Regions from separate parts of the Homo sapiens genome. Here regions 1 and 2 are each linked to region 3. Evidence: fine-mapped expression QTL. A gene starts in region 3. Each other region holds a variant in brackets. All regions are shown on one strand. Distances are between the middles of the regions. Region 1 overlaps STX11 (syntaxin 11). Region 2 overlaps STX11 (syntaxin 11). Region 3 holds the start of STX11 (syntaxin 11).

What was found. PIP is the estimated chance that this variant, and not a neighbour inherited with it, causes the effect.
Region 1: its variant is fine-mapped to the expression of STX11 in testis (GTEx, PIP 0.92).
Region 2: its variant is fine-mapped to the expression of STX11 in whole blood (TOPMed, PIP 0.99).

Annotation. Positions count from the first base shown.
Region 1 is chr6:144,175,405-144,179,646 of GRCh38, reverse strand. All of the region lies in intron 1 of STX11 (syntaxin 11), which reads right to left. Among named protein-coding and RNA genes, the nearest start is that of STX11, 27 kb to the right of the region's middle. The variant T/C (reference allele first, on the strand shown) is at 1,640.
Region 2 is chr6:144,185,718-144,189,913 of GRCh38, reverse strand. It overlaps STX11 (syntaxin 11), which reads right to left. Exons shown (of 2, transcript NM_003764.4): 2 at 1-3,291. The coding sequence starts at 3,286. The coding sequence ends at 2,423. Among named protein-coding and RNA genes, the nearest start is that of TRL-TAA1-1, 29 kb to the left of the region's middle. RefSeq lists an enhancer at 2,941-3,441. The variant C/T (reference allele first, on the strand shown) is at 2,353.
Region 3 is chr6:144,148,818-144,153,059 of GRCh38, reverse strand. STX11 (syntaxin 11) reads right to left here and starts at 2,543. Exons shown (of 2, transcript NM_003764.4): 1 at 2,357-2,543. RefSeq lists a silencer at 2,417-2,856.

The sequences.
Region 1 (4,242 bases), 27 kb before region 3:
TCTCATCTGTGGTGAGATCACAACCTGCACAGCCCCATGGGGTCACCCTGTGTACCCCTTTCTCAACCACCTCATCCAGTCCCTCCTGCCCACACATCCCCGCTACCAGAGGCACCTAGAAATTCCACAGGTAGAGTGTCACTGTAATTTAGCAGTTCCTTTCTAGCATACCCCATAGTAACACAGCCCTTAAAGAACAACAAATGGACTTTCCCCAACAGGTTCATAAACAATAATTTCACTCAACTGAGTAAAACCAGTGTTCTGTTTCTTGATTTTTAAAATGACACATCTAAGAGGGTGATATGGTTTGGCTCTATGTCCCCACCCAAATCTCATCTTGAATGGTACTCCCATAATTCCCACACGTTGTGCGAGGGATCCGGTGGGAGATAACTGAATCATGGGGGCGGTTTCCCCCATGCTGTTCTGGTGGTAGTGAATAAGTGTCATGAGATCTGATGGTTTTATTAGAGGTTTCTGCTTTTGCATCCTCTTCATTCTCTTTTTGTCTGCCACCATCCACATAAGATGTGACTTGCCCCTCCTTGCATTCACCATGCCTCACCATTGCCTCACCATGATTGTAAGTTCTCCCCAGCCACGTGGAACTGTAAGTCCATTAAACCTCTTTCTTTTGTAAATTGCCCAGTCTCAGATATGTCTTTATCAGCAGCATGAAAACAGACTAATACAGAGGGAAACACTATTCTTTGAACATCAAAACATTACAGGTTAAAACTAAAAAGTTCCTAATGAATAGCTCTAATTTTCTTGCTGCTCCGAAGTTAATTTAAAAAAAAAAAAGCTTGTATCGTATCTTAAAGTGCATTGGGCAAGAACGCATTTAATATTGTCTTAGGGCTCATTCAAAGCAAAATTTGAAAGGCTGAAGAGTATTAATTGAAATGGTTTATAACGATAAAAGTCTGAGGCTAGAAGAAATAATTTTTAAATGTCTCTTGTTTTCTCTTTGCTCTAAAGCAGAAAGCAGGTAGGAGTTATTCAAACCACTGCTGGAGGAGACAGCCTCTACTTTTCAATCACTTTACTCATTTGATGCCCTCTGACATAATTCGCTTTTCAGTTTCCTCAATCAGAATTTTCTGCCAGTGTGTGAAGAGAAAAAGGCAGTTTGATATGCACAGTTGATAAACAGCCAGTGGGTAGCTGGGATTTCACTTTTAGCAATATGCTTTCAGATGCTTTCTGTAGAAATGCACGGGAAATCAAAGCAGCTACTCCTGTGTAGGTTTCATACATTCTGCTCTACAGTGAACATTTATTAAGCATTTGTAAAATGCCAAATGCGGTACTCAGCAATGGGCAGGTATTAACCCATTTATTCCTTATGAGGTATTATCATCATCCCCAGTCTACAGGTTTGAGGCCTAATGAGTTTAAGCAGTTTGCCTAAAGTCATACAGTTATGGAGTTGAGATATAAATCCCAAAAGTGTGACTACTTGAGAATCCATCCGTAATCCACAAAGCTACACTAGCTTCTTTTTCCTAAACTCCCCACAAGAAGGCTTCTTTTAAAATCGTTAGTCTAATAGGAAACGTATTCCCTAATTGAGCTTTTCTATTAGGAACAATTATTAGCATCTAATTCTTAGAACTGGATTAACACATGGAAA[T/C]ACTGTCACCATTAGAATCACTACTTTCTTTCCCACACAAATTTCTTCATATCAGAGTTTCCCCAACATTGCAACACTTCAGTTGTTACAGTCCTAAAAACAGGGAGTAAGTCACCACAACTTTAAAAAAAATCCATAAAATTATTAACTCTCTGAAATAACAGAATACAGACACTTGGAGATGTAAATTTTACAGTCAGGTGCATAGAAGCCACAGCAGGAAAGGACAGTAGATGAGCTTTCTTTCTTCTTTTTTTTGAGACGGAGTCTCCCTCTGTCACCCAGGCTGGAGTGCAGTGGTGCAATCTTGGCTCACCGCAACCTTTGCCTCCCGGGTTCAAGCAATTCTCCTGCCTCAGCCTCCTGAGTAGCTGGGATTACAGGTGTGCACCACCACACCCGGCTAATTTTTTGTGTGTTTTTAGTAGAGATGGGGTTTCACTATATTGGCCAGGTTGGTCTCAAACTCCTGACCTTGTGATCCGCCTGCCTCAGCCTCCCAAAGTGCTGGGATTACAGGCGTGAGCCACCGCTCCCAGCCAGTAGATGAGCTAAGGGAGAAAGTAAAGACAGGAGCACTCAAGGGTCAAGGCCTCAAGGCTCAAGTCATCTGTGCAAATTTTTCCACTTGTATCTCTATTAGTATTTACAAACTAAAACAGTTGTTGTAACTCTTACATCTGATTTCCCTTTGGCCCTAGAATGTGAAGCAAAACTTTGCCTGGAAAATACAGCAAAGATCTATGTTTAAAAAATGATGGGGAATAGATTTTGAGTCCAGTTGGAAAACATATATGCCTTTAAGTAATTCCTTTATATTTTGTAACTATTCCATGAAGTATCTTTGAAAGGGAGAAATCCATGGAGTTTCCAGAATCATCAATGACCTTTTCTTTTCCAACTCGTAACACCAGTTAAGAATTTTTACATTCCTTTATCTGTTCCTCTTTCTTGTAAACAGTGTCCTTTGGGCCACTTATTCTAGTCTCATTGCCTGGTTACTCCTGTTAAATTCTCCCAGAAAAAATATTCTTATATATGGCTGATATCTTTTACACAAGGTACGGAAATATCTGAGTTATCCAACATCATCAATGCATGAGGGTTTTCCATGTAAGTAACCTTTACAGTAACTGAAGTTTCTCCCTTCAAATGTCAAAGGCATCTACTTATCTTTGTTGGAAATCCTCTTCTAAAATGCCTGGACACACTTCCTTGCTTTTTAAAAAACAGGGCATTAGACACAATTTATTGATGACTCAAATGGCCATTATTAACATCTTTCAACCATGTGTTCAAAGATCAGCTTGATTTGATTTAAAATGTTTCTCTTTCCTGGGAGTTAAAATAGCAAACCCTTCCTCAGTTATCTCCACTCACCACTGACAGTCTTCTCACTCCCTTTAGAGACTGTGGCAAGCAAAGACATTCGAGAAGCAAACATTCTATAATAGTAACTTTCTGCGTGTGTCTGCAGCCCTCTAGAATCAAGCCCACTCCGTAAAGCAAGGAAGGAAAAACGAATCTCAGTGACAGACTGTGTGCACCCCAAACCAGTCATTGTGCTTGAGAACTGATATAAAATCCACCACAATCCTCACAATAACCTTGGGAGGAGGGTAACATCATTTTCGATTTACTAATAACTGGGTCTCGGAGAAGTTAAGTTCACCCAGTGAGTAAGAGAGAAGTCTGGGATTTAAACTCACATCTGTCCAGGTCCTGAGTTCATGCCCTTTCCACTTAATCATGCACTGAAGCTGTTGGGGGAGTTAGGGTGGGAGGCGCTAGTGTGGGGAGGTACTAGGTCGGGAGGCGCTAGTGTTGTTAAGGAGCAATATTCTCTGCTCTGTTTCTTCCCTTCTCTGGCATCCCTCTCCACCTCCTCCTGCAAAGGGGCATGGAGTTGCTTATCTAATTAGTGAATCTAAAAGAAGAACCTGTCTGCAGTAGCCCAGCCACTTCTTTCTTTTTCCTAAAAGTGGGTTTAGCAGAGAACCTGTGTTGTCTCTGCACTACCCCTGGGTGGGGTGGGTGAAATCAGCTGTGGCCAGGGAGGGTAAATCCAGCTAATGCTGGCTTCAAGATCAGAATGCACAGTCCCACAGATGTAAGCCACATCTTCCAACCTTGTCTTTATCGGTCACTAACGAGACCCTTTGGCCTCTGACTGCTTTTCCTTTCTTATTTCTCCACGGGTGTGGAAGTCAGGTGGGTAAGGAGCAGCTACTTACTGTGTTCCTTCCTTAATCAACCCAACCACCATGTTAAGTAAAATCAAAGAAGGTGAGAGCAGAAAAAGCCTGTAATGACTAGCTTGCACAGTGCCTTCACTGTAAAGATGAGGAAAGAGAGGCTCATTGTATTCACATACAAATAATGATTAAAAGAGTGTTATTAAGGCTGGGCGCGGTGGCTCATGCCTGTAATCCCAGCACTTTGAGAGGCCGAAGTGTGTGGATCACCTAAGTTCAGGAGTTCAAGACCAGCCTGGTCAACATGGTGAAACCCCATCTCTACTGAAAATACAAAAATCAGCTGGGCGTGGTGGCATATACCTGTAGTCCCAGCTACTCGGGAGGATGAGGCAGAAGAAAAAACAA
Region 2 (4,196 bases), 37 kb before region 3:
CTCTCCTCTATTATAAAAAACATTGCAGTGGAGCTATGTGAACATTTTTTCCCCTTTCCCTTAGAGAAAGCAAATTAAGTCAAAGGTGATACATATCCTTGGAGTTGGCTGAAAAAGAAATTGGGAGAAATATGAGAATAGCCTTGTGGAACTTGGTTTCCACAATTCTCAAATTTAACCATGAAATTAAAATTAGATACAGGGGATAGATTTTCCTGGTCATAAGCAAGTCAGGCAGTGAGCTCCAAAGAATTCACATACTCCTCCTTCTAATTCTTTTAAAATTCCAGCTTCTAAAGGACCTGAGAAATATGATCACTACTAAACTCACTCATGTATTAAATAATGATTAGGAAGAGCTAAGAGTTGACACAGAGGAAGGCCAGGAAACATGGTAAATGTGGGTAAGGGCATTAAGAAGTTTGCAGACTACACCATATCTCTAAAGCCTCATGATTTTGCTAAAGTATTGTAACTCAGGAGAGAAAGCAAGACACCCTCATGGGAATTCTTTTGAGTTTTTCATTCTTTTCCCCCTCCACTCAGTTCCATCCAGATGTGGCAGCCTCAGTAGCTAGTAGAAAAAAAATTTGGCCAGGGTCAGTGGCTCAGGCCTGTAATCTCAGCACTTTGGGAGGCCAAGGTGGGCGGATTGCTCAAGCTCACAAGTTTGAGACCAGCCTGGGCCACATGGCAAACCCTGTCTCTACAGAAAATACAAAAATTAGCCGGGCATGGTGGCACATATCTGTAGTCTCAGCTATTTGTAGGCTGAGGTGGGAGGATCACTTGAGCCTGGGAGTTTAAGGCTGCAGTAAGCCATGATTATGCCACTGCACTTCAGCCTGGGTGACAAAGGGAGACCCTGTCTCAAAAGGGGGGAAAAAAGGCCAGGCATGGTGGCTCACACCTGTAATCCCAGCACTATGGGAGGCTGAGGCGGGCGGATCACGAGGTCAGGAGATCAAGACCATCCTGGCTAACACGGTGAAACACCGTCTTTACTAAAAACATAAAAAATTAGCCAGACATTGTGGCACGCGCCCAGAGTCCCAACTTCTCAGGAGGCTGAGTCAGGAGAATCGCTCGAACCTGGGAGACAGAGGTTGCAATGAGCCAAGATCCTGCCACTGCACTCCAGCCTGGGCAACACAGTGAGACTCCATCTCAAAAAAAAAAAAAAAAAAAGGAAAAAGAAAAATTTTAACAATAATTGAGAAAGTAAACTAAATGGTCAAGCCAGAAATGTATAAAAATATGTGTATAATGTAATGTTTATTAAGCTTGCTTGAAAAACAGAATTCTTTTACTTTGAATTTCTCCATTTCAATGCATGGAAGGAATGGTCCACAGTAAAACAAAAGCAGTATTTCCAAGAATGTTAGTTGTCTCTAGCTCCGTATACATTTTCTACCGCCATATGTCTACCGCCATAACCAATGCAGAGTTGTTTAACATGAAGTTTGACCCAAACTGGACTAGGAAGGGGCAAACTGGAGTGAAACAAACTCAAAACAAGCAAACCAATACCAAGAGCCAGAAAAGTGTTCGTCTTGAAATTTATATACCATACTTACATAAAAGAAGTTAAACCAATTGATCATTATGTACATATATTAGTGAATATTAGTATTTTACATTTACATACATGTGCATATGTAATCAAGTAAAAATATAAATGTTAAATAATTTTTATCAGCGAAAAATACACAAAACATGACTGATACTTCAATTTGAGTGCTTGTTCGATATTCAGTGCTTAAAAATGTTTGGAAAAATAATACCAAAATATAACCTGGTGAAAGATATTTAAAAAGTGAAAGAGATAAGAAAATAGTAAGTGTTTGGTGTGATTTTAATAAGTAGGGGAAATGAGCAGAAATAAGATCTATATTTGGGGAGGAATTGCATAGCGTAGACCGGATGAAGAATCGGAAAGGAAGAACGTGGTTTTTCCCAAGGCCAATTTCGCTCAAAATGGAACAGAACCAGGGAATTTTCAGGACAAAGTAAATGAACTGAAGTTTCCATCATGAGTTCATTCTATTAGCAGATGCCCAATTGACTTCCTCCTTGAGTCTTTATTAGGAGGCAGGCCTCAGACATTCACCCTACAGTCAGATACAACTTCAGTTCCTTACTTGGCTTCTGTCAAGACGGTAAGAGTGCAAGGTGTCATATAATGACATTGCACAACTTTGTGGGAATCTATCTTTACTGAAGAATCATCGGACGGTATCAACTAACCATCTTTCCAAGCACAGGCTGGTTTGCAATTCTTGAACCTGGCGTTTCTTTTCTAAAGACTGAGTTCCGGAAAGGGTTGGGGCAACTCCCTGCAGGGCAGAGCTC[C/T]CGGCTTTGGTGCGTCCTTCCCAGCGCGCTCCATGGTCTGGGATGGGCGGTGGCGGCCCGGGCCGGCCTGCTACTTGAGGCAGGGACAGCAGAAGCAGCAGAGGGTCCGGCAGGGGTTCTTCTCCTCGTACTGCACGGCCTTCCGCACCTGCGCCTTGGCCTGGCCGGTGTAGTCGACCGTCTTTTGTACGTTGAGCTCGATGACGTTCAGGGTGTCGGCCTGCTTCTCCACCAGCACCGCCATCTGCAAGAAGAGCTCGTGTACGTCGCGGATGCGGCTCTCCAGGCGCAGCAGTTCGCGGTGGCGGCTCTCGATCTCGTTGAGGGCGGCCCGCGCGCCCTTCACGTCGGCCAGCAAGTTCTCGGAAAACACGTCCCACTTACCCTGCTCGAACATGTCCTCGATCTGGTCGCCCGAGACTTCCTTGCCCATGATCTCCAGCTGGCGCTGGATGCGGATCTTGCAGTTGTCGCGCTGCTTCATCTCGGCCTGGTTGTAGTCGTGCATGGCGCGCTGGAAGGTGAGGGTGAGCGCGTTGTACTGCGCCCGCGAAATGCGCGCCACTGCCGAGTGCGGGCCGTGCTGGGCCTCAGCCGCCTCGCTCAGCTCCTTCATGGCGCGCAGCTTGCAGTGGATGACCTCGCCCCGGGCCTTGATGGCCTTGGCGATGGAGTTGGTGTCGCGCTTGATGCTGCTGAGGCGCCGCATGGACGTGAGGAAGCGGGCGTTCTGCTTTCCCAGCCGCTTCACGTCGGCCACCAGCAGCTGGTTTTCATCCTGAATGTCCCGGATGTCTCGGTACAGGGACTCCAGGATGTGGTCCGTCTCGAACACGATGTCCTCGTGGGGCGAGTCAAACTCATCGTCCCCGTCTGGGAACTGCTGGTCATATTGCTTGGACAAGTCCAGAAGTTCTGCTAGCCGGTCTTTCATTTTGCCTGCAAGTAGAGATAATGAAGTTAAATTTCTCTATTGAGAGTCAAATATTTGCCTTCAAGGGATTGAAACTTAAACATTTTACTCAGCAGTCCCAATTTTGTATTCCTCGGTGTGGGCAATAAGTGCACTAAAGGAGCTAAATGTTCTGACATTTTGCTTACAAGGAAAGAAATAAGATGACTGAACAACATGAAACAGTTGTGTTTTAAGGCCTATAGGCACCTGCAGTTCAATATCATAGCCGCGCAGAACTCAATGAGCAATTTAAAATTTTATTTATTTATTTATTTATTTATATATATTTTATTATACTTTAAGTTCTAGGGTACATGTGCACAACGTGCAGGTTTGTTACATATGTATACCTGTGCCATGTTGGTGTGCTGCACCCATTAACTCATCATTTACATTAGGTATATCTCCTAATGCTATCCCTCCCCCCTCCCCCCACCCCACAACAGGCCCTGGTGTGTGAAAATTTTAGATTGCATTGGGAAACCATCTCTTTTCATTGCTTTATGTTTTCCAATCATTGCAAATTAAAACAGACACAGAAAAAAAAAAAAAGAAAAAAGAAGAAGAAAGACTTGCAAACTTAAGTATTTTTAATTGAGGATAATCTACAAGGCTTTGGGGCCAACATCTAAATGTTGCCTATTTTGTGTCTATTTCGGCACTGGGAAGCATCCCCTCCTGTACACACTAACAACTCTTAAAACAGTTACCATGCAAATCATGATTTAAATTTTTTTCTCTTGAAGATGTTGTAAAAGTAAAACATGCTTGAAGTAAAATGACAACAAAATACAGAAATCTAAGTGTAAAATTTAGAAGTTGAGGTTTCCTTACTCCTCTTCTCAATATCATTCCCTAATGATAAGCATCGTAAATAACACTGCTTTTT
Region 3 (4,242 bases):
GTGATACGGTAGATTTATTCATTTTGGCTCACACGGCTATAATGTGATAAAAAACATTGATTTGAACTACAAAAACAATGATCATAAACTCGCTTCAATATAGTGTTACCAATGTATAAACTATTAGGCAGGGCATGGTGGCTCACATCTGCAATCCCAGCACTTTGGGAGGCCAAGGCAAGCAGATCACCTGAGGTCAGCAGTTCGAGACCAGCCTGGCCAACAGGGCCGAACCTTGTCCCTACTAAAAATACAAAAATTAGCCGGGTGTTGTGGTGGGTGTCTGTAGTCCCAGCTACTTGGGACGCTGAAGCACAAGAATTGCTTAAACGCAGGAGGTGGAGGTTGCAGTGAGCCAAGATTGCACCACCACACTCCAGCCTGGGGCAACAGAGTGAGACTCTGTCTCAAAAAACAAAACAAAACAAAACAACCTATTAATTAGTCACACCATTTCCTAAAAGTCATGCTGTTAACTAAAGGTGACTGCAATTGTCCAGGGGTGATAATCAGCTGAATTTCGTTTTACATGGTTATTAAATAACATGAAACATGGTTCATTCAAGCACTTTAAAAACCATACCTTTCAAATTCATACATTTTTAAATCATGTATCAAATGAAGAATAGGCTGCCTACAAAGACAAGTAAATGACTAAACTCAAAAGTTTCCTTGCTCTTCCAGCCATGACCCAGTCCATTCCAAATCCCAGATCTTCAGAAACATCAGTCATATTGGGACAGAAACTTTTCTCTGGGTATAGATTTACCCTAGCACCTATCTCATTATATTGAATTTTCCAGCATATTTAAATAAACTATTAATTAGTCACACTATTTCTTAAAAGTCACACTATCAACTAATCGTGACCGCAATTATCTAGGGGTGATAATCTGCTGAGTCTACTCTTTAAATACACTGGGACCCAGCATATTGAGTTATATTGGCACAGAAACTTCACTCTGGGTATAGATTTACCCTAGTACCTTGCCGGCAGGATCCTATTATTCATGGTTGTACAAGCAAGGTTCAGGGAAGAGGCTGGCACAGAGAAGGTACCTGGTAACTGTTGTTTGAGGCTGAATTCAGCTCAACTCAGCTCCAGTAGAGATGGTGTCCCCTTCTCTACCGTGTTGAGATAGTGTGCAGTCCCTTCCTAAGGGCTGTTACCCACCGCAATAGGACTTGTCAGCTTCAACTTTTAAATTTCTCTGCTCCCGCTGGGACCCACCCGCTTCAAAAATCATCATGTGGTTTTAGCACCAATTTAGTAAACACAAACTGTCTGAAATATTTTGATTTTAGAGAGTTACTTACAATCACCACATTAAATGATACCTTTCTCCCATGCAGTGAAAATGACAGCAAAATGGTCATTGAATAATGAAATTAATTTTCTCTTGGGCATCTGTGGCAAAGCACATGATTTCAATGGTTATCTTAGATCAGCCCAGTGACCTTTACTGGCATGTTGTAACATCAGGCGCCTTAGGAAACTGAAAACTCAATCGTCACTTCCCATACCACTGCCCCAGGTTGGCAGGGCAGGCATTTCACATCTAGAGTCTCATTTTAAAGCAAGCCTCGCTTTTCAAAAGTTCATTAACAAAGTCTCACAATTAAGAGAGCAGCCCTGTGACTCATTTTTGGATACCTGTAAATAACAGCTCCTCCCTCTGCTGAGAAACGGCTGAAACAAGTGCGTGAGAACCACAGGAAGTAATACAGATCTCAGCTGGTGTCAGCGGAGTCTAGAAAAAGGCAGAATTCCCTCTCAGGACGGCGTGGCTCTCGCAGGCATTGCCACTACTTCTCTCCATGTTTCTAAAACAAAGTCTTACGTGGGCTTCGAAGGGACTCCTCGAAGGCTCTATCAATTTCTCCGTCTTTCCTGGCTACTGAGTGACACCGCCAAGTTCAAGTCAAGAAGTACCCATTCTGGTGTTTTTGACACAGTCACCCTACTAGGAAGTGAAGAGGTGATAATAAAAAAACACTCCAGCCTTTCGATTTAAAATAAAAGTAGTCTTGGGTGGACACTTTATAAAGGCAGCCTACCAACAGGTATCCCTAAAATAATTCTTACGAAGCACTAAATCCTAAGTCCCTCAGCCTCTGAAATTAAAAGTAATTTTAAAAAATCATTCTGCTTTATATGAGAAACCCAATGCTGTGTTTCCGAAGGTGCCCAGAGGCGGCGTGAGGACCTGCGCCAGATCCAAAATCCCACCTAAGGCACAGCCGCGGGTCCCGAGCCTAGACAGTGCCCCCGCCCCGACCCGCCCTCCCCGATCTCTCCGCGCACGGGGAAAATAGTCAGGAAGAGAAATGGGGGCTCAGGAAGAGAAAAACAAACCTGGACTGGGAGCGAGAGTGCGAACCGAGAAGCCCCTCTCCCGGCAGGGCGCGCGTCCCCTGTGGGCGCAGCGATGGAGAAGGAAACCTGTTGCGCGACTCCCGGCGGCTCCGCTCCCGGCGCCTCCTGCGGCCGAGGCTGAGTTCCTCCACGGCCGCCCGAGCTCCGCGCCGCCGCGGCCGCATCTGGGCGCCGCCGGCTCAGCCCCCGCCGCTTAGGAAGCGACCACAGCTGGGGACCAGGCCCCGCCCCGGGATGACAGCGCTGGGGCGCGGCGGCAGCCGGCTCACAGAGCGCGGGTTCCCGCCCCACCCAGAGTCCATGCGCTCGGGACCGCCCGGAGCCGGGGACGCGCTCCAGCCCCTCCCGCAAGCCCAGGGGCGTTCCCGCGGGCTGCGCGGACCGGCGCGGGGAGTGGGATGTTTGCCGCCCAAGACACTTCCTCCGCTCGTCCTCTGGTCCCCAGGGCAGGGAGCGCGCTGGACTTCCCCCGGGAATCCCCGCTGCGCTGGTGACATTTGCAGTCCGGTGCGTTGCCGCGGCGAGGACGCTGGAAGCCGTCTCTGAGCGTGGGTGTGGCTGCGGAAGCTGCGGCAGGTCCTGCATCCCTGGGACCCTCGAGGACGCGGGCGAGGAGCCTGCGGTCACACGGAGGCCGAGCACCGCCTTCCCAGAACCCTGCCGACCAACCTCTCTCCAGTCGGCCTCAACACCCGCCGGGCTCATCATTCTCTGGATATCAACTGAGCGTCCCCTTGTGTGCCCACCGCGCTCAAAAATACTGCCAAGACCCACCCTCCAGGTCCCGGCACTTTAACGGGGAGGGATAAATAGAAAGTGTGGATTGTGCCAGGTGGTGGTAAAGCACCTTGAAAAACAAGGCTGAGGCTGAAAAGTAAGGAAGTGATACTCAAAAAAGGAAAAATCGGGCCGGGCGCGGTGGCTCACGCGCGTATTCCTAACACTTTGGGAGGCCGAAGGGGGAGGATCTCTTGAGCCCAGGAGTTTGAGACCAGCCTGAGCGATGTGGTGAAAGCCTATCTCTACAAAAAATAAAAAAATTAACTGGGCGTGGTGGCGCACGCTGTGATCCCAGCTGCTCGGGAGGCTAAGGTGGGAGGATCACTTGAGGCTGAGAGGTCAAGGATGCAGTGAGCCGAGATCGCGCCACTGTACTCCAGCCTGGGCGACAGAATGAGACGCTGTCTCAATTGAATGAGAAGAAAAAAAATAAAACTAAAGAACGAATCCTGCCTTGATGGCAGAATGTTTAGACACAGGAACCACCTGAAAGCTCCCAGTTGCCAAAGATGGAACCATTTGAGCAACGAAGTAAACTAAACAAGGTAGTATTGGATTACAAGCCAAAGTAAAAAAATCCATGAGTCTACACTGATATAAATAAATAATTGAATAAATAAATAAAAGGCGGAGAGGAGACAAATCTCCTATACAGAATAATTCCAAATAATTTATGTAGATCATGTACCCTAGGCTGTGCACAGTGACTTCCTCCAAAATAGTACAATGTGGAAAGGGAAAAACAGTAGGTTTACAATGGAGAAAGCCGACAGACACTACCCCAGCCAGATGTTCTAAGCCAACGTCAACAATCGTGACTCATTGATGGCATGTAGTCAATATGATGTGATGAATGTGGCATATTACATGTGTGGTCTCCCTCCTGGAAAACCATAACCTCAGTCTCATAATGAGAAAAATATCAAACAAATTCCAGTAGTGGAACATCCTACAAAATACCTGACCAATATTCCTCAAAGTTGTCAGGTTATCAAAAGTAAGGAAAGTACAGTCCAGACGTGGCTCACGCCTGTAATCCGTACACTTTGAGAGGCTGAAGCGAGAGGATTGCTTGAGGCCAGGAG